Linked DNA regions of Homo sapiens. The protein of the gene in region 4 purifies or fractionates together with the protein of the main gene of each other region. This does not show direct contact. Each region holds a gene or a part of one and is shown on either strand. Other genes may lie near its edges. The genes, in order: SSBP1, CORO1C, PON3, NFYC, KLHL22, XBP1 and PON1.

The links.
Region 1: the proteins of NFYC (region 4) and SSBP1 purify together in Homo sapiens (affinity purification with mass spectrometry; one large-scale study listed by BioGRID and IntAct). This does not show direct contact.
Region 2: the proteins of NFYC (region 4) and CORO1C fractionate together in Homo sapiens (co-fractionation; one large-scale study listed by BioGRID). This does not show direct contact.
Region 3: the proteins of NFYC (region 4) and PON3 purify together in Homo sapiens (affinity purification with mass spectrometry; 2 studies listed by BioGRID and IntAct, with this or other methods). This does not show direct contact.
Region 5: the proteins of NFYC (region 4) and KLHL22 purify together in Homo sapiens (co-immunoprecipitation; one large-scale study listed by IntAct). This does not show direct contact.
Region 6: the proteins of NFYC (region 4) and XBP1 purify together in Homo sapiens (affinity purification with western blotting, with the first as the bait; one study listed by BioGRID). This does not show direct contact.
Region 7: the proteins of NFYC (region 4) and PON1 purify together in Homo sapiens (affinity purification with mass spectrometry; 2 studies listed by BioGRID and IntAct, with this or other methods). This does not show direct contact.

Annotation. Positions count from the first base shown.
Region 1 is NC_000007.14:141,737,176-141,741,157, forward strand, and holds the start of SSBP1 (single-stranded DNA-binding protein, mitochondrial precursor), read left to right. Parts: upstream 1-1,182; 5' UTR 1,183-1,235; exon of another isoform or gene 1,236-1,418; intron 1,419-1,431; exon of another isoform or gene 1,432-1,823; intron 1,824-1,948; 5' UTR 1,949-1,991; coding exon 1,992-2,015; intron 2,016-3,982.
Region 2 is NC_000012.12:108,651,519-108,655,018, reverse strand, and holds part of CORO1C (coronin-1C), read left to right. Parts: intron 1-608; coding exon 609-713; intron 714-2,601; coding exon 2,602-2,747; intron 2,748-3,500. UniProt on the Homo sapiens protein: Plays a role in directed cell migration by regulating the activation and subcellular location of RAC1. Increases the presence of activated RAC1 at the leading edge of migrating cells.
Region 3 is NC_000007.14:95,368,876-95,372,375, forward strand, and holds part of PON3 (serum paraoxonase/lactonase 3), read right to left. Parts: intron 3,464-3,500; coding exon 3,298-3,463; intron 1-3,297. UniProt on the Homo sapiens protein: Has low activity towards the organophosphate paraxon and aromatic carboxylic acid esters. Rapidly hydrolyzes lactones such as statin prodrugs (e.g. lovastatin).
Region 4 is NC_000001.11:40,747,204-40,750,703, reverse strand, and holds part of NFYC (nuclear transcription factor Y subunit gamma), read right to left. Parts: intron 3,171-3,500; coding exon 3,099-3,170; intron 1,132-3,098; coding exon 1,018-1,131; intron 1-1,017. UniProt on the Homo sapiens protein: Component of the sequence-specific heterotrimeric transcription factor (NF-Y) which specifically recognizes a 5'-CCAAT-3' box motif found in the promoters of its target genes.
Region 5 is NC_000022.11:20,447,296-20,450,795, reverse strand, and holds part of KLHL22 (kelch-like protein 22), read left to right. Parts: intron 1-3,500. UniProt on the Homo sapiens protein: Substrate-specific adapter of a BCR (BTB-CUL3-RBX1) E3 ubiquitin ligase complex required for chromosome alignment and localization of PLK1 at kinetochores.
Region 6 is NC_000022.11:28,794,060-28,797,569, reverse strand, and holds the end of XBP1 (X-box-binding protein 1), read left to right. Parts: intron 1-364; coding exon 365-493; intron 494-1,377; coding exon 1,378-1,416; coding exon of another isoform or gene 1,417-1,442; coding exon 1,443-1,523; intron 1,524-1,837; coding exon 1,838-2,395; 3' UTR 2,396-3,010; downstream 3,011-3,510. UniProt on the Homo sapiens protein: Functions as a transcription factor during endoplasmic reticulum (ER) stress by regulating the unfolded protein response (UPR).
Region 7 is NC_000007.14:95,314,533-95,318,032, forward strand, and holds part of PON1 (serum paraoxonase/arylesterase 1), read right to left. Parts: intron 2,258-3,500; coding exon 2,202-2,257; intron 959-2,201; coding exon 790-958; intron 1-789. UniProt on the Homo sapiens protein: Hydrolyzes the toxic metabolites of a variety of organophosphorus insecticides. Capable of hydrolyzing a broad spectrum of organophosphate substrates and lactones, and a number of aromatic carboxylic acid esters.

The DNA.
Region 1 (3,982 bases), on a different chromosome or scaffold from region 4:
TTTATGAAGTGTTTAGTGGGTACAATAATGTCCTAGACCTTCATGTTGGGCCACCACTCACTCATTTACTCACCCACAGCAACTTCCAGTTCCGCAAGCTCCATTCATGGTAAGCGCCCCATACAGGTGTGCCATTTTTATCTTTTATACCGCATTTGTACTGTACCTTTTCCATGTTTACATATGTTTAGACACACAGATACTTACCATGAATTACAATGGTCTGCGGTATTCAGTACAGCCCCATGCTGTCAGGTTTGCAGCCTGGAAGCAGCAGGCCACACCACAGAGCCGAGGTGTGTCCAGGCTCCACCATCTAGGTCGTCAAAGTACATTCTGTGGTGTTCGTACAGCAACAAAATCGCCTAATGACGCAATCCTCAGACCTTACCCTGTTGTTAAGGTACACATGACTCTTATTTTGTTCCTCCCGGATTTCCTGCATTAATTTTTACTTTTTAAAATATTACATTAATATATTATTTGATTGCCAGTTTTTCTGGTGCTCCCTTAAATTGCACAGCCTGCCAGCCCTTCCCTGGCTCCCCTTTCTTTTTCTGCTTTTCTTAGTGCTTCAACAGACCTGGGACGTTCTTTTTCTTTCTTTTTTTTTTTAATTTTCTTCTTTTTTTCTTTTTCTTGTTTTGTTTTGTTTTGTTTTGAGATAGAGTTCGCTCTGTTGCCCAGGCTGGAATGCAGTGGTGCGTTCACGGCTCAATGCAGCAACGACCTCCAGGGCTCAGGCGATCCCCCGACCTCAGCCTCCGGAGAAGCTTGGACCACAGGCGCGCGCCACCACGCCCAGCTAATTATATATTTTTTGTAGAGACAGGTCTCACTATGTCGCCTAGGCTGGTCACAAATGTTGCTTTTTTTTCCCTCCAGGCAGAGCTAGTCTCTGTTTTGCCTACCTCGCCCCCTCCTGGGCCCAGTTAGAAACCTCATCACATAATTTCATTTCTTTCCAAACTTGAAACCTTCTAAACTTGAAACCTTCTAAACTTGAAACCTTCCAAACTCACCACTTGGCGGCGTTGATCCATCCGCCCGCGCACAAAGAGAAGATCGCGGAACTTCAGAGTTAAGGGGAGCCGTTTCCCGCAGCGCTAGCCGGCAGTATTTCCAAGGCGCAAGTTGCGGAGTTTCTGTTTCCTTTTTCCTCTGGCGAGCTTTGCGTTCCCTGTGCGCCGGAAGTGATCCCCTGCGTGGCTGGGCTGCTCGGGTTAGATCGTCAGGTGAGGGAGGAAGGGATAGCCAGCGCGAAGGAAGTGCTGGAGTCGTGTGTTTTGGCTGCGCGTGATCCTGCGTGGGTCGGGAGGTGTTTCTGTGTAGGTGTCTGGCCCTTTCATCAGTCGTGCGGAGGACCGCGTGATTTCCTTCCAGTTCTCCTCGGTTTTCAGGTGGTGGCGCCATCTTCGGTAAAGGGTGTCCACCTCTCCCTATGGTGTGGCTGGCTAGCCCGGGGGTCTCTACGCTGCTTGGTCTTTGTTAACGGAGATGAAGGCAGTAATTTTTCAGTAACAGGTTTCAGATATAAGTCCCTTGGTGATGCTAATATTTATGGAGGCCTTACTATGCATTAAGAACTTTTTTAGAAGTTTAGAAAATGGCAGTGAATAAAGCAGATACAAATCTCTGCTCTAAGGGAGCTTGCATAGTAATGAAATTTGAGAAGACAGTGGATTGGAAGTGGGATTAACTCAGAATCAAAATTTTGTCGATGGGTTGGAGGAAGAGGAAGTTATTTGGGACCAAAAAGACATACAGGTGTGAGTTTATTTGGGAGGGAGGAAGGAATCCTCATCAGATGTGCAGGAATGTTGGTACGTTGTGGTCACAAAATTGGAGTGCATAAAAATTATGAATATAGTTAGGAATTTAGGACTGGTGAGTTGTACTTTTGCCATAAGAGGTAATGTTTTTTTCTTATTTTGTTTTTTTCCTTCAGGAAAAGCCTAAAGATTAGACTGTAAGAAAAGAAAATAGAAGCCATGTTTCGAAGACCTGTATTACAGGTAGTCACTTGTCTGTATTAATACTGAGATGTATTACTATCAGCCACAGTGATCAGAAGACTTCTTTAGGCTTTTAACTACAGGGGCAAAAGACCTTTGAGCTCACCCACCCACCTCTATACTCATTTGATATGGAGGATTGGGGACGATTTTGCCAGTGTAAATTATGTTCACTAAAACAAAAAAAAAGTTCAGGTTTATTCACACGTAATAGGAATCATTAATTTTTAAAATGTGTGTGTGTTGCTTGAATTTAACCAGTGAGAGGACATTAAAGGTCTTTAGTGACCTAAAGACTGTAGGAATCATTGTTCCAACTTTTTTCTTAAGGCATGTAGTTGCTTTTTTGACCATCTACCTCCTGTGTTGCTAAACGTTCCTCTTCCCCCATCTTTCCACACTGAAGAGAGCATCTCAAGTCTCAGTGGTCACCAGAGATTTCACTATGTAGAAAATGCCTTCTCATTCCACTTAGTATGGGTCCTCACTTTTCCAGACACTAGCCCACCTTGAGCCAGCTTAGACTACCATTTTTCCTCACTTACCACATTCGGGCACCAGCTCCTGTAGATTCTTCTTTGGCTCTCCTACTCCCCATCCTCCTGTGAAGACCAATGAAGAACCAGTTCCTCCATGACTCTGTCATTTTCCCCACCTTAATCCTATATTCTTGGATCCCCACTTTAACCTGTATGTATCTTTAATCTATTTTTTTCTGTATTGAAATGTGAAACATGAAAAAGTTATTGCTTCTTAACACTAACGTTACAGTATTAAAATGTCTTTAAATAAGAGTTAAAAGTTTAATTTAAAAAATTATCCAAGTTAAATAATCCTTTCCTAATCTTCTCCAGTAGATTTTTGTGTGCCCCAAATGAGACATTGTTATTATAAATCTCTGTGTAAGATTTATGAGGTCTAGCTTGTCTGAGCACTCAAATGACATTTCCAGAATCATGACACAGGTTCTCATTAGCAGTTTGATTCTATAGTATGTTGTACTCATATCTTTATTTTCTTATCTGCCCTCTGCTCCTAAGTTTAGTGATAGGATTAGATAGCCAACAGCACCCTGGGGATTGGTGTTTATTTGATTGGTGGACTTCTGCTTTTTATATTAACAGTACTGCCACTTCAAAAATGTTTCTCTGATAGAATGGCTAGCTCTCTGAGCTCTGAATTCAGTGATGTGTACTCCCATCTTTACAGGAGCTCTTGAAATTAAGGAGGCAGCAGAGGGCTTCGGGAAAGCAGTAGCATTGGTGTCAAGGGCCCTGGGTCCTTGAGATCACTTGCCACATACTTCCTGCAGGAGCTTGGGCAGGTGATGCAGTCTCTCTGAGGTGTTTTCTCAGCCCTAAATGGGAATAATTTTACATAACTTGTAGATTTAGTTTTAGAATTGATAATAGATAAATCCCTTAGCTGATATTCAGTAATGATTGCTGCTATTATGTGGTAGTGACTACCTTTGCTGACAGTGATGTGACTTTGACTTGGACAGTCGAGTCTTTGTGTTTAATCAAAGAACCAAATTTATTAGACCTTTTTTGATGCACTAAAAACAGGAAATTTCCTATGAAATATTTATAAAAACTGTATTAGGCTAAGCTCACTACTGAAGCTGTTTAATTTTTGCAATAGCCTTGTGAAGTAGGTATTATGTATCATAATTTTTGCTTATTTTAAAATGAAACACTTTAGATTAGTCATATTAGGTATCCTAATTCCTTTTAAGGTCTGAAGGAGCAACCAGGGGAAGGCAGTTTCATAGACACAGGGAATCTGACTTTGGAATATGTTCCTGTTGCTGTGTCAGAAAGTCATTCATGTGATTAGTTTTAGAATGTATTGTTTTGTTGGAATGTAACCTATCTCTCGTTCTCTAAACCAGCAGACCCCAACCTTTTTGGCACTGATAACTGGTTTCATGGAAGACAATTTTTCCATGGAGGAGGGGGGTGCCG
Region 2 (3,500 bases), on a different chromosome or scaffold from region 4:
AAAAAAATAAAATAGGGTAGGCGCAGTGGCCATTCCTGTAATCCCAGCACTTTGGGAGGCTGAGGTGGCTGGATCACTTGAGGCTGGGAGTTGGAGACCAGCCTGGCCAACATGGTGAAACTCTGTGTCTACTAAAAATACAAAAATTAGCCACGGGTGGTGGCATGTGCCTATCTATAATCCCAGCTCTTGCCAGGCTGAGGCAGGAAAATCGCTTGAACTTGGGAGGCGGAGATTGCAGTGAGCCGAGATAGCACTACTGCACTCCAGCCTGGGCGACAGAGGGAGACTCAGTCTTTAAAAAAAAAAAAAAGAAAAAGAAAACAGTAACAAAGGAGAAGGGCTTTCTCATCATTGTCATGAAATCACGCTGATGTATGCGCGCATTATGTTGTCAAATCAGTGAAATTTTGTGAGTTGGATCTCATTTAGCATCCCTGTTGCTGTTTCCATGTATGAGTATTGTATGTGCATAGTTCAAACTTCTGTTATTCTAGGAAAATGGCTCGCTTAATTGGGATAGAAGAATATATAATAAGGTTATAAAAATTTATTTTTAAAAAAATGTATACATACACATATATGTATTATTATTATCTTCCCCCCAGAAAAATATGCAGGAACCAATTGCTCTTCATGAGATGGACACTAGCAATGGGGTGTTGCTGCCTTTCTATGACCCTGACACCAGCATCATTTACTTATGTGGAAAGGTAAACAGTAATTTTGATGTTTGGTGTTAAATCCTGTAAGTGGAAACATTTATCCTTCAGAGATTTAGAGGACGGGCAATGTGTTGTATCTGTTTAATTTTTCTAATTTGTGTGTGTATGTTATAAGCCAAGGACAGATAATTTGGTATTTTTAGGTCTTGAGACTGGACTGTGTGCAGCTTGCCAGTTGTGCAGTGATAACACGCCATGTTGCATACTTTTGACTGAAGCAGAGGTTGGGCTGGGGTATTGGGGAAAATGCTCCAATCAGGGCGCTCTTGTGAAAAAAAGAAGATACACTGGTGTTTCATCTTCACCTAGCAGTGCTACCTGATTGGTGATTTTAGATTTATCTGTACTTATGTCAGGGATGGGCAACCAGTTGGCCACATCTAATGCTGAAATTTGTTGGATAACCCTAGATGAGCATGTGTATACTTAGTACCACACACCATGGACTTGGAAGGAGAATGGTGCTTTGTGGATGCAAACTTTTGAGGGCCTCAGAGACTCTCCAGAGGGTTCTTGTTCCTGGGGTTCAGTGCTAGGGCTCTGGGCTTGAAGATATGAGGCCTGACTAAAGCTCAGGGGTGATAACAGTTATAGGGAGACTCCACACTGAACTCCAAAAACCTTCCTCCTGCCTTATGAGCTCAGCATACCTAGACTGTGGGTAGCTTTATTATTTCATTTTTGTAAGTGGGAACCTTATAGTTCCCTTTTTTTTCTTGTAGGCTCAATTTCCCTTAGAACTTTTTGTAGTTGAAATAAATGAATTAATAACAGTGGAGCTGTTGAGGTAGTCCCTAGACCTGTTAGATAGCCCTTCACTGGGTGGTAAAGCTGGTGTTTGCTTTTCATAGCTGATTGAGCATGCTGCAGACCTGCTTTACATTTTTATAGGTCATTGTTTTAGAAATGGAGATCTTGTCTGTTTCCTTGAAAGCCATTTTACTGCAGATGTTAACAGGTGTTAAGTGCATTTACCTTGCTGTTGTTGCCCTTGACTGAATTAAAACAAACAAAATGAGCAGTTACTCAGATATTAGTAACATGAGATGGAAAATTCTTTTGGGCATGCAGAAATGACTAGTAAGGGTTTAGCTTCTTTTCCATTGCTTTAGATATCTCAGTCATTGAGACAAATGGAAATCATGAGAACTGGGAGCACTGTTGAGGCATGATACCACCTAGCTATTTTTGCCTTCTTCTTTCTTACATATATGTATATCTCCTCTCTGCCAGACAAGATTGCCGTCATTGTTCAGGTTGGTGTAACTGTGTGACAATTATTTGTACTTAGACTAACATATGCTTCAGTACTCAAAGATATCTGACTATTCTAAGCAAGAAAGTAGTAGAATTGTACACATTGCCATGAGATGGCACTTTCTGAGGATACTCACTAAAACTGAGTTTCTTCATTAGAAAAATCTCACTTTTTATCATCATACTGGCATAACAGCATTGCGTTATGCCAGTAAATGAATACTTAAATCAATAATTGCATTCTCAGCAGTCCTCTTAGTCTTTGTTTGTTTGTTTGTTTTTCACAGTTGAATTGCAATGTAGCTGTTTGGCAGAGGCATTAACATTTTTGCCCTAACCCTGGCCTGGTGCCTAGGCTCAGGGGAGTAAAATTAGAGCCAGGAGCCAGGAGGCTGAGGAGACCACTTAAAAGGCATGCTAGCATTTGATAAGTAAGGGGTTACTTTGTGAGGAAAAGAAACTTTTATATGCTTTAGGCAAGCCTCTTTATGAGGAAGAAAAGGTCAGCTACTGAAGCGGGGTCCCAACTACTGCTGGGTTTGTAGAGGAGAGAGACACCCCCATAATCCAGATGTTTCAGTTAACAATCAGACACAGACTTGTCTCTGGTTTCTTACAGGGTGACAGCAGTATTCGCTATTTTGAGATCACGGATGAATCCCCGTACGTCCACTACCTCAACACATTCAGCAGCAAGGAGCCTCAGAGAGGGATGGGTTACATGCCCAAGAGGGGACTTGATGTTAACAAATGTGAGATTGCCAGGTAAAGAATCGAGATTGTCAAGTATTCTAGGTTGGTGTAACTGTGTGACAATTATTTGTACTTGGACTAGCATATACTTCAGATCTCAAAAATATCTGACCATTCTGAGCAAGAAAGTAGTAGAATTGTACACATTGCCATGAGATGGCACTTTCTAAGGATATCACTAAAACTGAGTTTCTTCATTAGAAAAAAATCTCAAAAAAAAAAAAAAAAGAAAAGAAAAAAATCTCACTTTTTTTTTTTTGAGACGGAGTCTGGCTCTGTTGCCCAGGCAGGAGTGCAGTGGTGTGATCTCAGCTCACTGCAACCTCCGCCTCCCTGGTTCAAGCAATTCTCCTGCCTTAGCCTTCCAAGTAGCTGGGATTACAGGCGCCCACCACCACACCCGGCACATCTCACTTTTTATCATCACCTGAATGCCTGGTGATACCAGAGCAATACAGCTACAAGAAATTCTATGAAGCCCAAGTCTTTCTATCCTTGTGTGTACTGTGGAATTAATACCTCATTTCCTGCCCATATAACTGAAGTGCAACAATGAAGCAGCATAGCTGGGGTGTATTGCACACCTACTGAAATAGTGAAACATGCATCTTTAATCTTCAAGCTGAGGCCATGGTCAGCGTTCCCTGGTGGGCAAGTAGGGAGAGCCTGGCTCGGGGATGGAAAAGTGGGTGGTTTTCCTACCCTATGAGTGGAAGAACCAGAGTCAAAACTGTATTTGGGGCCCCACTGGTCCTAAAATAGAGA
Region 3 (3,500 bases), on a different chromosome or scaffold from region 4:
ATCCCATGCAATGAAATAGTTTCAGGTAAATCTAATCACTTATTATACCATCTCCAATGCAGAATCTTATGTCTTGTACAGTGTGAGGCAAAACAGTTGCAGTTTTAAAATTATTTAAATAGAGTCCTAATCTCATTTTAGTAAAAGACACAGGATTAGAAGTGAGACCTCCTCTGTCTGAGTTCTGGATCAGCCATTTACTAATTGCAGAAGTGAAGTCACACTTCACTGCATTCCTCTAAACTTCATTGTATCCATCTATAAAGTTGAATATTACTATGTGCTCTGCCTGTCCTATAGGGTTCGTTTATTTATTCATTTGATATGTGTTCATAGAGTACCTACTGTGCATCAGATACTGTTCTAGACTCTCAGAATCCAGCAATGGACAAATCAATATGCTTTTATGGTGATTATATTTGAGAGAGGAAAACAAGGAGGAAAAATTATTAAATAAATTAAAACAAAGAATACTAGAGTGGGGAGACACGTTCTTCATAGAGTGTCATTCATTTGAAGAGTAACAGTTAAGTTTAGGAACTTGCTATAGAGCAAGAGCAGGAGAGGGAAAGAAAATTCCTATCCTTTAACATTTAAAAAAAAAAGTTACTACTGTAGGCTGGGAGTGGTGGCTTACACCTGTAATCCTAACACTTTGGGAGGCCAAGGCAGGTGGATCACCTGAGGTCAGAAGTTCGAGACCAGCCTGGCCAACATGGTGAAACCCTGTCTCTACTAAAAATACAAAAAATTAGCCGGGCATGGTGGCGCATGCCTGTAATCCCAGCTACTTGGGAGGCTGAGGCATGAGAATTGCTTGAACCCGGGAGGCAGGGGTTGCAGTGAGCTTAGATTGTGCCACTGCACTCCAGCTTGGGAGACGAGCAAAACTTCATCTCATAAAAAAAAAATTAGTTACCACCGTAATGAATGATTTTAAAAAAGAGGTACATTGAGAAGAAATATAGAAAGGTACACAAATTGGAACAAGATGGTGGGCAGGCTTCCCTGAGAAGATGATATTTAAGCTGAGTCTTCAATGATGACAAAGAGTGAGCCAGAAGTGGCAGACGGACATTCCAGGCAGAGGGAACAGCAGATGTAAAGATCCTGAGGCATGAGACACTTCACTGAATGAAAAGAAATCCAGTATGGCTGGTCCAGAGAGTCTGGAGGAGAATGGTTTCCAGTGAAACTGGAGAGCATACAGGTGCCAGAAGGTACAGGGGAAGCACCCAGGAACCCAGGCCGTTCTGGAGATTTGGGGTTTATCCTCAGAGTGACAGAACAATATGAAAAATTTGATGAAAAGAGGGACATAATCAGATTTGCATAAAAAGAAATCCTTACTATGACAATGAATTGAGGTGGTATGAGAAGGAAGGTACAGTTGGGGGCCCATGCAGAATCAGGGAAGGCATGCTGGGGCCTTGAACTGCTGGTAGCAGTGAGGATGGGGAGAGATGGACAGATATTTCAGACTGGAGAGATATTGGAGAGATACATTAAACAAAACATTATAATGAGTTGATCAAAAGGGCCAGGGAGAGGAAGTGTCAAGGTTGGGCCCAGGATTTTATTTCGAGAAGTAAAGACACCATTATATATGAAAATAGTTTGTATACTATAAACCAATGAAAAATTGTTAGATTCAATTATCTTTTAAAGCAGAGCTTGCTAAGCAAATAAAAGTGTATATAAGATTTCATGGAATTCTAGCACTTCAATTTGGTCCTCCTTTCATGTGGTTACTGTTAGTGAAGTTTCCCTGTTCTTAATTTTCTTCATGCTGTATAGACCCAAAAATATTTTAAAATTAAATGTTTGAAATTATGAACTGTGAACAAGTCAAAAATAATATTGGAAACTATTGTTTTTAAAGCATATATGGTATATTGATAACTTATGTTTTTATAATATATTTTTGAGATATAATTCACACACCACTGAATTCAGACTTTTAAAATGTAAACTTCAGTGGGTTTTAGTATATTCACAGAATTGTGCAACCATAACCACTATTTAGTTCCAGAACATTTTCATCACCCAAAAAGAAATCACCTACTCATTAGCTGTCATTCCTCCTTCCCCACTCCCCTGGCTCCTGCCAACAATTTTTCTGTCTGTGAATTCACCTATTCTGGACACTTCATATAAATGGAATCACATAATGTGTGGCTTTTAGTGACTAAATTCCTTCAGTTGGCATAATATTTACAAGCTTCATCCATATTATAGCATGCATGAGTAGTTCATTTCTTTTTATTGCCAAATAGTGTTCTATTGTATAAATACCTATCACATTTTGTTTATGAATGCATCAGTTGATAGACATTTGGGTTATTTCCACCTTTTGTATTAGGAGTAATGCTGCTATGAACATTTGTATATGGGTTTTTGCATGGATAGGTTTTCAATTCTCTTGAGCATACACCAAGGTGCAGAGTTGCTGGATTGTGTGGTAACTCTATGTTTAACATGTTGAGGAAATGCAAAACTCCTTCCCAAAGTGGTTACATTATTTCACAATCCCACTGGCAAAGTATGAGGGTTCCAATTTTTCTACATCCTTGCCAACATTTGTTATTGTCTGTCTTTTTAATTATCACCATCCTAGTGGGTGTGAAATGGTATCTCATTCTGGTTTTGATTTGTAGTTTCCTAATGTCTAAGGATGATAAACATCTTTCATGTGCTTACAGGCCTTTGTGTATCTTAGGAGAAATGTCTATCTAGGTAGATACTTTGTCCATTTTTAAATTACATTATTTGTGTTTTGTTAAGTTGTAAGAATTATTTATATTGTCTGAATACAAGTCTCTCATCTAATATATGATTTACAAATACTATCTCTCATTCTTTGGGTTGTTTTTCACTTTCTTGATGGTGTCTTTTGAAGCACAAAAGCTTTTAACTTTGATGAGTCTAATTTGTTTTTTTCCCCCTTATGTTATGTTTTTTAACGTCTCACAGTTGTCTTTAGTGACAACTAAACTAAAGGGCCTTTAGTTTACATGTTAGATTTCTGAGAACAGTATTCAAACAGGTTGTGACAGTCAAACAAGAAGACAAGTGGATAGAAGGAAGAGGAGGAGGCCACATAGGGCCAAAAATACTAGTGTTCCTTCTTTAATGCAATGTTTACAAGGTTTTATACCTATTTATCATTTAAAAAAAACACATCTGTATGGTAAAATAGCATCTTCTCTCTTCCTGTTACATAAATATTGAGGGGCTGGAGATAAATGGTTTCTATTTCCCTCATTTCCCCCTTATCCCTAAACATACAGGTTTTACCTTTGTCGATGAAAATACTGATCCCATGTGGATTAAATAATTCTTTGTCAAATCCACCACTGATTTCTAGCGCTTGTGCCCTTGGGTTTTGTTCATTCAGATCCATCAAGAAGATTTTTCCTGGTTCATCTGGCGCAAAGTTTGGCATGCCTGGATATTTTAATCCCTTTTAAAAATAAAGAACAAGTGTGCACACATATACA
Region 4 (3,500 bases):
GGAGCTTTAACTGGATCTCTCTGGATCCACAGACTAACTTCAAGGCAACATAAATTTTGTGACTTCAACATGCATATCATTTATTGGAGCTCAGTATTTTTTGCTTTTTTTGCTTTAAAACTTTCATATAGTAATGTACACAAATCCTAACTTTATGACGCATTGACAAGCTGTACTAGAATGCAGGCTTCCCACAGATAAGGATTTTTGTCTGTTGTGTGTATCGTTAATCCCCAGAGCCTAGAAAAGTGCCCGGCACATTGTGGGTGTTCAGTAAGTATTTTTAGAATAAATGAATAAACACATGCATTTTCTACTTTGTAGGTAAAGGGAAACAAGAAGAGAAAATAATTTACTTTCTTGGCTTCATTGTTAAAATACTGCCACCACTGTTTTATACTTGTTACACTCTTCTTCTTGTATCTGGGAAATCTTTCCTCTAAGAGCCAGGGCTTGGCTATAGGGTGAGGGTTTCTAGAGTCAATGACCAAGGGCTCTGCATACAGTATGAATGTGAATTCGCTAGGTTAAAAATTAAAATTAAAAAAAAAAGAAGAAGAAAAAGAAAAGGACTCCCAGGAAGGCTGACAAGGAACAAAAAGCCTAATGAAGCTAGTGAGACTGATGATACTTCCTGGAATCTCTCAAGGCTCCCAACCAGAAGTTGATTACGTTTGGAAACAGGTAAATACTCTTATCACTTGAGCCTCTGTTTATAGTGAGGGCTCACCAAGGGAAAAGAGTTCAGTCACTAAGCTGTGAAAACCAGGAGAGAATTGATTAAGATTTTTGGTGGAGAAACACAATCACCATGGCTAGAAGGTATGTCTGCCTCCCAACAGTGGTGATGCCAATGACACGTCAGCTTGATAGAGGCCTAAAGGAGAACAATCTTTGGTCCTAAAGGAGAACAATCTTTGGTCCTAAAGGAGAACAATCTTTCTCCAACACCACGCAGGAAAACAGGCAAAGGCTGCTGCTTACCCCAGTTTTCCTAATCTAAGTCTGCAATAATACCTGTAGAGTCCGGCGCTTGTTATCTTCTGTGTGAATCCAGGCTCGAAGAGTCAACTCTGTGATAAAAATCTGGGCTGCCTTGGCAAAGAGTACAGGCGCTTCTGCACTGATCATCTGTAACAGACACAGGCCCTCCCTGTCAATCACCAGCAAGTCATGCAAACCAGTCTGTCTCTTGCCTCATTGCCTGGCATGGGACTATGGGGCAAGGGTCAAAAAATGAGGTGGTATACTCAAGAGATTCCAAGGTAAAATAAATCCATGAGTGGGAACAAAGCAGGTAACAGGGAGAAAGAATACTTATCTAGCACATACCATGCGCCAAACCTTGTGCAAGGTGTTTTCTTACTCTTATAATAGCCTTTCAAAGAAACTAGGGGTCAAGAGAGATGAAGTGACTTGCCCACAGCCATAGAGCCAGTAAGTGGCAGGGTTTAGGTTCTAATCCAAGGAGAAACAATATGAGGAAGGAGAATGAGCTTGAAAGCCAATGGATTTGGATAAAATTGCAGGCTTCCCATCCTTTTGGGCTTTTTCATGTACTGAAAAAGAGGATAACCTTTCAGTTTTATTGTGGCAATCAAATGAGATAATATATGTACCCAGCCCAGGGCTTGGCATATAGGAAATGCTCAAGCCATATAAACTTTCTTGATGTGTCTGATTTCAAAGTTGAAGCTCTTGGTCAAACAAGGTTCTAAACCTTTGGTGAGGTAGTCTGTGCAGGATACAGCCACAGAAAGAGCTCTGGAGTTAAAGAAGCAGCAGATGGGAAATGGGATCTTGGTCCTATCACTCTGGGTGAGTCACTTAACCTCTTTGTGTCTATTTCCATTGTCTGTAAAATGGAACTGATAATTCTTATTATATCAAATCTCACAGGGCTACTGTGAGGAAGAAAGGAGCTAATAAAAGGGAAAATTACTATCAATTGTTAGCTTTCTGTGAAAATACAAAAGACTATTAATTTTGAGTGGTAAAGAGACAGAGTTCCTCTTTCTCTGAGATCTGTAATGGAGATGGACTCCTAGGAATACAGAAATGGCCAAGCCCACGCAAACCCTCTCACAAGTATTATTCATGTAAAAGAAACTCATAGATCAAAAGGTTAGAACAGGTAGAATATCATTATCAAAAATTTCTTAAGAGTTCAGATCAACAAACTATGTAAGACGCTAAGATGATGGCACTGTCCTGTTGATTTGATGATACATGTATATACTACACTGTGAACAGAACTGTGAGATACCAGCTGGGCATGGTGGCTCATGCCTAATCCTAGCACTTTGGGAGGCTGAGGCTGGAGGACTGCTTGAGCCCAGGAGTTCGTGACTAGCCTGGACAACATGGTGAGATCCTGTCCCCCACTCCAAAAAAACATTAAAAATTAAGCCAGACATGATGGCACGTGCCTGTAGTCCCAGCTACTTGGGAGGCTGAGGTGGGAAGATCACTTAAGCCTGGGAGGTGAAGGCTACAGTGAGCCGTGATTATGCCATTGCCCTCCAGCCTGGGTGACAGAGTGAGACCCTGTCTCAAAAAGAAAGAAAAGGCCAGATGCGGTGGCTCACACCTGTAATCCCAGCACTTTGGGAGGCAGAGGCAGGCATATCACCTGAGGTCGGGAGTTCAAGACCAGCCTGGCCAACATGGTGAAACCCTGTCTCTACAAAAAATACAAAAATTAGCTAGGTGTGGTGGCGGGCGCCTGTAATCCTAGCTACTCGGGAGTCTGAGGCATGGGAATTGCCTGAACCTGGGAGGCAGAGGTTGCAGTGAGCTAAGCTCGCACCACTGCACTGCGGCCTGGATAACAGAGTAAAACTCTCAAAAAAAAAAAAAAAACCCAACATCAACTATTTTTTCAACATCTAAAAAATTTTCAGGATGATCCATATAGTAACCAAAACTGCTCAATTTTGGCTCACTTAACAATTTTGCACAGGAACCAAATAACAAAGCAACAGACAGTAATTTTTGTGTGTTCTTGTTTAATTAAACTTTGAGCTCTAGAGAAATGAGCAATAACCTACCCATCACTTAGCTTCAATAAGAAATAATAAAAATGAATGTGAATTCACCTTCACATCTTCATCCAGTTTCATAATCTTCTTAATACGAGCCAGTGGGAGTTCCTGCACTCGGAAGTCTTTCTGAAATGAACAACAAGAGATGCATAAATGGTGGGGACAATCAACAGTGTGGCAAAGCATGACAGGCAGTAGGAAACACTCTGGCTTGGTCCCTCTCTTCAGGAAGCGTATGTCGGGAGAGAAGGTACAGATGAAATGAAGAAAATACAAGCTCCAGAGCAAAATTCTTCTTTACTTAACATATGCAGGTCTTCAAAGAATTAATGGGCTTTAGAAAAAGCTTAGGATGGCCTCTAACAGTGCTCTCATGAAACACAGCCCCAAGCAATATCTGTTTTTTTTTTTTTTTCGTCAGCACAACATAGAGGGACATTATGAGCGCCTTCTTTT
Region 5 (3,500 bases), on a different chromosome or scaffold from region 4:
CAGGGGCATCTGCATATACTGTAGCAGGCTGGGCAAGGAGTCTTTCTGCTCTTTCTTGGCATGCTTCACCCAACTGATGACAGCCTCAAAGACTGGTTCTTCAGGATCCACCTGAATTTCATCGCACTTGATTAGCTTTTCCACCTCTCCTTGCCTCAGAAGAATGAACTCTTCATGCTGTACCACTTCAGGAAAATTCTTCTGGCTAAAAACCTCAGCTGCTTGTGTCAGGTCAACACAATTGTGGGTTTCAGCAAAATCCCTAATACCCAGGCAATTAGAAGGGTCCAACTGACTTTCTAAGAACTCACAGCAGGCTTGTTTCACACCTTTCAACTGAAGCAGACAGGCTGCAGGAAGCAGTTCCTGTACATTCTCCATGTCACATGTACTGTTTCCGTGTACACAAAGTCCAATAAAATTTCCATGGTAGAGGCAGTCAAACCTTGGATGTCAACATAGGGTTTCCCCTTCTATAAAGGTCACTAGTGAACATGGCACAGAAGTAATCACTACAGGCAGCCAGCACAATCTCATGGGCAGGAAAGTCTTTCTGCTCTACTCAATGTCACATCACAGAAGGTATTGCTCTTCCCAACGGAGTTCATTGAACTGAGGATTGATTTAGCATGAGTATTTGTCATTATGTCTTTGGGGGCCATAATGCCTCCCATAAAGCAGTGCGGAGAAAGAACAAAAATAGGTCCTTGGATTCTGCAACTCTGCTTCTGATCCCACACAGCCGCGCCAGGGCCTGTCCCCAGCCTGTGGGGATGGAGTGGGGTGCGGGTCCAGCAGGTGGCTCAGGAGGAGCCGAAGCGTCGCCGCCGCCGCCCCGGCCCGGAGGCTCTGGAGCTGTCCGGGTCTGCTCCCTGCGGCCACGCGACGTGATGACCAGAAGAAAATCTTGAGGATCTAGCTAGGGCTAGGCAAGGAATTCTTAGACTTGACCCCAAAAGCATGAGCCATAAAAAGAAAAATTGATAAGCTGGACTTCATCAAAATTAAAAAATATTTGCAAACCACCTATCTGACAAAGGACTAGTATTAAATAAATACATATATAAACAACTCTTAAAACTCAATAAACGGCCAGGTGTGGTGGCTCACACCTGTAATCCCAGCACTTTGAAAGGCTGAAGTGAGCGGATCACGAGGTCAGGAGTTCGAGACCAGAGACCAGCCTGGCCAACATGGTGAAACCCCATCTCTACTAAAACTACAAAAATTAGTTGGGCGCGGTGGCACACGCCTGTAATCCCAGCTACTTGGGAGGCTGAGGCAGGAGAATTGCTTGAACCTGGGAGGCAGAGGTTGCAGTGAGCCGAGACCGTGCCTTTGCACTCCAGCCTGGGCGACAGAGTGAGACTCCATCTCAAAAACAAAAAACCTTGGCAAAATACTGCAAATAACCCCATTAAAAAGAGGGCAAAAGAAGCCGGGCACGGTGGCTCACACCTGTAATCCCAGCACTTTGGGAGGCCAAGGTGGGTGGATCACGAGGTCAGGAGATTGAGACCATCCTGGCTAACACGGTGAAACCCCATCTCTACTAAAAATACAAAAAATTAGCTGGATGTGGTGGCGGACGTCTATAGTCCCAGCTACTTGGGAGGCTGAGGCAGGAGAATGGTGTGAACCCAGGAGGCAGAGGGTGCAGTGAGCTGAGATTGTGCCACTGCACTCCAGCCTGGGCGACACGGCAAGACTCTGTCTCAAAAAAAAACAAACAAAACAAAACAAAACAAAACAAAAAACAGAAGGCAAAAGAGTTGAAGAAACATTTCACTGAAGAGGATGTATAGATGGCAAATAAGCATATAAGGAGATATGTAACATTATTAGCTATCAGGGAAATGCAAATTAAAGCCACAGTGAGAGAACTACCTCAGGATGACTAAAATAAAAAGTAGTGAAAATACGAAATACTGGTGACTGTGCAGGGAAACTATGCTCATGGATTGCTGATAGGAATGTGAAATGGTACAGCCACTCTGGAAAACAGATCTGGCAGTTACCATCCTGGGTATTTATCCCAGAGAAATGAAAACTACTCTGTATACGTTAGCCAGGCATGGTGATGCGTGCCTGTAATCCCAGCTACTCCGGAGGCTGAGGCACAAGAATTGCTTGAACCCGGGAGGCAGAGGTTGCAGTGAGCCAAGATTGTGCCACTATATTCCAGCATGGGCAATAGACCAAGACCCTGTCTCAAAAAAATAAAAAATAACTTATCTGTACATGAATGTTAATAGTAGCTTTATTGGTAATAGCCAGAAACTGGAAACAAATCAGGTGTTTTCAACAGTGAATGGTTAAACAAGCTGTGGTAGATACCCATGGAATACTACTGAGCAATAGAAAAGGAACCAACTATTGGTACATGTTGAGTACCCTTTATCTGAAATGCTGGGGACCAGAAGTGTTTTGGATTTCAGATTTTTTCAGATTTTGGAATCTTTGCATTATAGTTACTGGTTCAGCATTTCTTATCCAAAAGTCTGAAATGCATTTCCTTTGAGTGCCGTGTTTGTGCTCAAAAAGTCTCAGATTTTGGAGGTACTCAACCTGTACATGCAACAACCTGGTAGAACCTGGGTTGGGGTAGAAAGCCAATGTCAAAAGGTTGTATACTGATTTAATTCAGACAACACTCTTGAAGTTACAAAACTGTAGAAATAGAGAAGAGATTGGTGGTTTCCAGGGCTTAAGGAAGGGATTAGGGTAAGGGAGGTGAGTGGATGTCACCCTAAAGGGCAGCCCCTCGGGATCCTGGTGGTGATAGGACAGTTCTGTGGCTGTGTCCACGTCAGCATCCTGGTGACCCTGTGATATAGTGACACAGGCTCCTACCATGGGGGAAAGAAGGCACGTGAGACCTCTGTATTTTTACTTCCAACTACACGTGACTACACTTATCTCAAAATGAAAAGTTTAATTAAAAAGAAAAACCTCGGCTGGGCGTGGTGGCTCATGCCTATAATCCTAGCACTTTGGAAGGCCGAGGCAGGTGGGTCACGAGGTCAGGAGATCGAGACCATCCTGGCCAACATGGTGAAACCCTGTCTCTATTAAAAATACAAAAGTTAGCTGGGTATGGTGGCGGGCGCCTATAATCCCAGCTACTCGGGAAGCTGAGGCAGGAGAATCATTCGAACCCGGGAGGCGGAGATTGCAGTGAGCCGAGATCGTGCCACTGCACTCCGGCCTGGTGACAGAGCGAGACTCCGTCTCAAAAAAAAAAAAAAAAAGAAAAACCTCCCCAGACCCCTACTGGTGATAGGAGAAGACCCAAACCAAACCCTTGGTGTGTGTTCTTCCTCCCCACTGCTCCGTCCACCTCTCTAGACTCTTGTGTTTTTGCCACCCGCATGGCCTCAGTGTTAGTGACTTGCCCAGTAACATAGCTCTGGAGCCTCCACACCCTGAGGGGCTCCTCTACCCTCAAAACACCCAGGGCCTTGCCTTGGGGCCTTCTGTTGGCCTGCTGGGTGTGAGTG
Region 6 (3,510 bases), on a different chromosome or scaffold from region 4:
ACCTCAGGTGATCCACCTGCCTTGGCCTCCCAAAGTGTTAGGATTACAAGTGTGAGCCACCGAGCCTGGCCAAGATAGTTTAAAAAAAAAATTATATCTACATTAAAGCCACAAGTCACCCTTTGCTGAAGTCAGTATTAGTAGTTGGAAGCAGTGTGTTATTCTTGACCCCATGAAGTGGCACTTATTAAGTAGCTTGCTTTTCCATAATTATGGCCTAGCTTTTTAAAACCTACTATGAACACCACAAGCATAGAGTTTTCCAAAAGTTCAAGAAGGAAAGGAAACCAATTATACTGAATCAGGTAGATTCTTAACTGAAATAATTAGATGTTTTAATAGCCTCTTATGAACTTTCTTCCAGAACCAAAAACTTTTGCTAGAAAATCAGCTTTTACGAGAGAAAACTCATGGCCTTGTAGTTGAGAACCAGGAGTTAAGACAGCGCTTGGGGATGGATGCCCTGGTTGCTGAAGAGGAGGCGGAAGCCAAGGTAAATCATCTCCTTTATTTGGTGCCTCATGTGAGTACTGGTTCCAAGTGACATGACCCAGCGATTATGTTTACAGTCTGGACTTCTGATCAAGAGCGTTCTTGAAATTTTCCTTCAGTTTTAAGACATTTTCATGCAGGCAGAGTGTTCTTCCCCTAAAGGCACTTGACACTCATTTTTTAAGTGTGTAGTGAACAGTACTAAGATCTAATAATGAAAACAAGTTACATGGCTCCCTAAGAACAAGTACTAACAAATGCAGTAGCCAACAAGATTACCATGCAATCATTAAGGAGAACCAAAGTAAGAGAGCCACTCAAACCAGATTTTGAACGCTACTAAAATTAAAGTAGTTCTTTGATGAATATGAATGAGTAGGGAAAGGATTCTTTGTAATAGTGATACCTCTGTGGTAAGAGAAGGGTGGTATGTGAGTTTTAGTCTACAGATTATGGCAAATTCAGTGACAACAATCAAATGGTCTAAGATTGACAGTAGCACAGTTTTACTCTGTGAAGGTAATGTTCAGGACAAATTTCAAGAAAACTAGAAAACCATTCTTTACAGCTGAAATCTTTCCCTAACCATTGTTATTTCCACTTTTAAGTCCTCAAGAGATGAGAAAAGGGAGGTAAGGCTTCCTTATACATTTCCTGCACAATGAAACATTTTTCCTCCTCCAGGCAAAGATTCAAGCAGAACTGGCAAATATCTTATCTTGCTCTTCTCAATAATAATAATGTTGTTAGATAATAAAGTTCTATAGCAATTTAACCCTAGAATCTTTTTGAAAAGTAATTCTTTAAAGTTGAGAATCACAGCTGTCTAGCAAGCATTTCCTTGGGCACTTGAAGCTGTTTATTCACTTTGGTCTTTCCTCCCAGGGGAATGAAGTGAGGCCAGTGGCCGGGTCTGCTGAGTCCGCAGCACTCAGACTACGTGCACCTCTGCAGCAGGTGCAGGCCCAGTTGTCACCCCTCCAGAACATCTCCCCATGGATTCTGGCGGTATTGACTCTTCAGATTCAGAGGTAGGGATCATTCTGACTTATTAAAGAGCTATATAACCAGTTAATTCCATCTGTTTGATGCTTGACATCCCTAACTAGACAGATGAGGGTTGAAGTTAGTTTTTGGTGGGGTTGGAGGTGAACATCAACTACCTTCCTAGTTCCAGGTAATATAGAACATGGAGTGAAGTGTAGATAAATGGGTCTGGTGGGTCCCGAGGTCATCTTATCACATAATGACTAATTTACATTATGGAACCCAGTACAAAGTGTTCCAGTTAGATTTTCCATTGTATTCTGACAGTTGTACTTCATTTAATTTTTGCCTCTTACAGTCTGATATCCTGTTGGGCATTCTGGACAACTTGGACCCAGTCATGTTCTTCAAATGCCCTTCCCCAGAGCCTGCCAGCCTGGAGGAGCTCCCAGAGGTCTACCCAGAAGGACCCAGTTCCTTACCAGCCTCCCTTTCTCTGTCAGTGGGGACGTCATCAGCCAAGCTGGAAGCCATTAATGAACTAATTCGTTTTGACCACATATATACCAAGCCCCTAGTCTTAGAGATACCCTCTGAGACAGAGAGCCAAGCTAATGTGGTAGTGAAAATCGAGGAAGCACCTCTCAGCCCCTCAGAGAATGATCACCCTGAATTCATTGTCTCAGTGAAGGAAGAACCTGTAGAAGATGACCTCGTTCCGGAGCTGGGTATCTCAAATCTGCTTTCATCCAGCCACTGCCCAAAGCCATCTTCCTGCCTACTGGATGCTTACAGTGACTGTGGATACGGGGGTTCCCTTTCCCCATTCAGTGACATGTCCTCTCTGCTTGGTGTAAACCATTCTTGGGAGGACACTTTTGCCAATGAACTCTTTCCCCAGCTGATTAGTGTCTAAGGAATGATCCAATACTGTTGCCCTTTTCCTTGACTATTACACTGCCTGGAGGATAGCAGAGAAGCCTGTCTGTACTTCATTCAAAAAGCCAAAATAGAGAGTATACAGTCCTAGAGAATTCCTCTATTTGTTCAGATCTCATAGATGACCCCCAGGTATTGTCTTTTGACATCCAGCAGTCCAAGGTATTGAGACATATTACTGGAAGTAAGAAATATTACTATAATTGAGAACTACAGCTTTTAAGATTGTACTTTTATCTTAAAAGGGTGGTAGTTTTCCCTAAAATACTTATTATGTAAGGGTCATTAGACAAATGTCTTGAAGTAGACATGGAATTTATGAATGGTTCTTTATCATTTCTCTTCCCCCTTTTTGGCATCCTGGCTTGCCTCCAGTTTTAGGTCCTTTAGTTTGCTTCTGTAAGCAACGGGAACACCTGCTGAGGGGGCTCTTTCCCTCATGTATACTTCAAGTAAGATCAAGAATCTTTTGTGAAATTATAGAAATTTACTATGTAAATGCTTGATGGAATTTTTTCCTGCTAGTGTAGCTTCTGAAAGGTGCTTTCTCCATTTATTTAAAACTACCCATGCAATTAAAAGGTACAATGCAGCATCCTTGTTTGATTTCTTCTAGGGCCGTAAGTCTTGTTTTCTCTCCAGATGTTTATCTGTGTGCTGTGGTAGGAATTAATCCAACTGAAGTGAGCCTAACGCTTTTTAAAGTGACTGAAGGCTTTTCCACCTTAATTACTGCCTGCTTTAATTCTGGACTGCCATAAGTGATATAAGCTATAATTTGAGCAGTTACTGTCTTTCTGAGACAGATTCTTGAGCCTAACTGACCAATATCACAGCTAGTAAGTGGAAGAGCTAGAACCCTAACCACTATTTGCTACACCATCTTATAAATGTTAAACAAGGACACACCATCACATATCGAGATTCTCTTGCCCTTATTATGGGAATTAAGAGCATTTTCTAGACTGAAACTCCCTATTTTCAACTCTGCCACTGGTAAGCTGGGTAACCCAGGGGTTATATATAATCACTTATTTCCTCATCTGTAAAGTTGGATAATGGTATCTCTAAAGGTTAAGATTCAAAGAGACG
Region 7 (3,500 bases), on a different chromosome or scaffold from region 4:
TGAGGGATCGTCTGATGATGAAATGGAGGTAATGGGTATAAACGTGGTTCTTAACCCTAGCCTGACATTTTTATCAACTGAAAAACTTTTAACAACTACTGTGATCCAGGCCTCCCTCAGACTAACGGAATTGGAATCTGTCAAGCTGGGGGCTGGGCATCGAGTCTTTTTAAACTCTTCAGGTGCTACCATTGTGCAACTGGGGCTGAAAATTAATACAGAGACAAGGAAGTGACAGCAAATGGAAAGGGAGAAAGGGAGTAAAGACATAAAGGATGACACCAAGTTATGTTGAAAGGGACCAACATGCAGAGGAGCATTTTGAACACAGAACAGAGGAACCAGCGGACAGGAGGCATTGAAGATAATGGGACCGGCAGAAAGCTGACCATGGTGACTTTCTGTCACTGGACCTATAGCTTACAGATGCCTTGGGTTAGAAAAATCTGTTCCTGTAAATGCCCGAGTCTTGAAAATCGTTTAAAATGGAAAAGCTATAATGATCAGGGCTGGATATTATTATTATGGTAATTATAGGGATAATGTGAATGTTAGTATTTTACAAAATTAGATGCTTTACAAATCTTAAATATTTTAGCATTCTCAAGTATTTAAGTGGTTTTACTATAAAGTTCAATTAACATAGAGGGTAAGTTTAAAACCCAGAGTAAGAACATTATTCATGACTATGCTTTGTTTGAATGAGAAAAAATAATTCATTTATTGGCATGTTTTTCTGTTTTTGTTTTAAGTTTGGTTTTGGTTTTAATAAATAGTAAATATTGTTACCTTCATCTGTGAATGTGCTAATCCCATGAGGGTTAAATGAAGATACATCAAATTTACTTCCAGTGATCCCCAATTCCAACACTGTTGGATCTTCTTCATTCAGGTCCATCAGAAGTATTTTTCCAGGACTGTTGGGGTTGAAGCTCTTTATTCCAGGATACTTTAATCCCTTATAAACCATGGAGGAGAAAAATCAAGCACAATACCAGTACTTCAAATGCTAATAGAGGCGCTGCATGGCCCATGGGTTCATGTTGACTGCTCCAAACCACAGGGCTAGCCAGATGGCCACATAGGAAGCCTCTTAGTTAGCTTCTGTAATGGGTCCCCAGGAGAAGTCTTCTGGAAGCCACATGCTCCACTAGGCCACCCCACACAAACCCTTTCATCCCCTGCAGCAAAGTCATATGTGCACGACACTACAGCTTCCAGCCCATGAGAAAGATCAAAAATGGAAGAGCAGACCAAAAAGGCAATTAATAATAGTCTTCAATGATATAAGCAAGGAATACAGAGAGAATATTGCTTATGGCTTTTAAACTGTTCCCTGGTAGGTCCTTGGAAGCATCTCAAAGACAGAGTTTTGGTGGGCCAGAGGAACTACTCCTTTCTTAGCCTTCAATCAAAACAATAAAGCTGTTGTTTTATATATTGTGTTCCCATATAAGATTTTGCTTGAAATACACCTTATGTTGCTCAAGAAAGTTTGCAAGACATTGCTTTGCAGGATGACTAGTCTATCATCTTTGTAAGAGAAAACTGGACTAAGTAAATTACAAGGGGTAGCAAAGGTTTTTAAATGGCTGGATGATTGTCTGTCGTTTCCTATCAACTCTGTTATGTTATGATCCCTAGGCCAGATGGTGGACTTCTTTTGTTTTGCACTATATCAGCTACCATAGCGATCTATATGCAGGACAGTTTCAGCAAATATGGTGGATTCTGTCTTCAAAGCTTGGGAATTGGGAATTGGGACCTATCAACAATTTTAAATTAAAGGGCTTATTCTGAAATTTGTTTAAAAATGTGAAAGTTGAAATGACCTGTGAAGTAGTATACATTAAATGTATATTTAATTTAGCAAATATTTGAATATGGCAATTTTAAGTGCTTAGGGAATAGACAATTGAGAGGAAAACAATTCTTGAATACACTGAACTCACAAAAAAATTGCTGCAATAGAAGCTAACGTAATATGGTTCAATGTAGACCGAAGAACACAAATATGCATAGAACACGCATGATCATAATTATAGCACAAGTGTAAATGCATACACAATTTGTCTTTTAAACCATGACTGTTCATTTTATTTGAAAGTGGGCATGGGTATACAGAAAGCCTAAGTGAAAGACTTAAACTGCCAGTCCTAGAAAACGTTCTAGAACACAGAAAAGTGAAAGAAAACACTCACAGAGCTAATGAAAGCCAGTCCATTAGGCAGTATCTCCAAGTCTTCAGAGCCAGTTTCTGCCAGAAAAGAGAACAGAAAGTACAGGTTGTTTCATATTATTGCAGGATGTGGATCCATTTCTTTATCACACCTCACTTGAAACTGGGGCTATACATCACTCTTCTTTAATAGGTTCAGAATAATTCATTCTTTCATTTATTCAAATTGATGAATGCGATTATATGGAAATTAAAAATATATTAATTCATTAACAAGTTTAATTAAAATTTACACTTAGTATATTTGTTTTAAATTGATGGACTAGAGCTTTTTCCTCAAAGACTGAATCCTCTTAAAGTTCATGGAAATTCACAAAACGTACAAAAGCCATGATTATTTGAAAAGAACTTGTTTTCTAAAGATACAAGGTAAATTACAAATATATGTTGATACTTAATACTTCCAAATCAATTAAACCCTTGGAAAGCCATATTGAAGATATAAGCAAATTCCAAATAGTTGAGTTAAAATGGGGATACATTTTAGGTGATCAAGAATATGAATTTTTACTACTAATTATAAACATCGGTTAAATATTACTGTCTTCAAGTTAGTTATACTTTAAGTACATGTAAATTTTTAACATTTCAATTTATCTAGAGAAAAATGAACTATTTGATAGGTATTTCTACACTTAGTGGAAAGTTTGCTTTTCAAAAACCCAGTGATATTTGATATCAATATCATATTTTTCTAGAAAACAATCGCACCATAAGATATCTAGTGAAATTTAGTGGTACTAAGTCATCTGATCTAGCCTCCTGAGCCTTAATCAACTGAGATGAATAATTCTAAAAGAACAAAAAAAAAAAAAAAAAAAAGAAAGAAAAAGAAACACCCAAAGCACACAAAAGCATGATCTCAAACCAATTGTCTTCAAATAACAAAGCTGGTTGGTTGGAACCAGCTGGAGAGTTGAGCCCGGGGACTCTCCTTGTTGGTTGCCTCCCAGCTGCTATTCTCCTACCGTTTTATCTTTGCTGACAGGGCCTGCCTCCCACATTGGAGGCTTGATAATTACTTTCCCAGCATCCTTTGCAACTAGGGCACCAGCCTGTCCTCCAGCTCTGACAAATAAGATCTAAGGGGAAATCTGCTGAGAGCTTCTGGAAAAAATTTTCCTGTCCAATATCAAAAGAGAGATGCATAAGGAGAAGCCTTGTGGTAATTGCAAAGTCCTGTCAGAGCCTTTCTAAAAAAAAGTTACCTTTATTCAATGCTTTATCTGGCTCTCCCTCCCCTCTTCTGCCATCTCCTCAG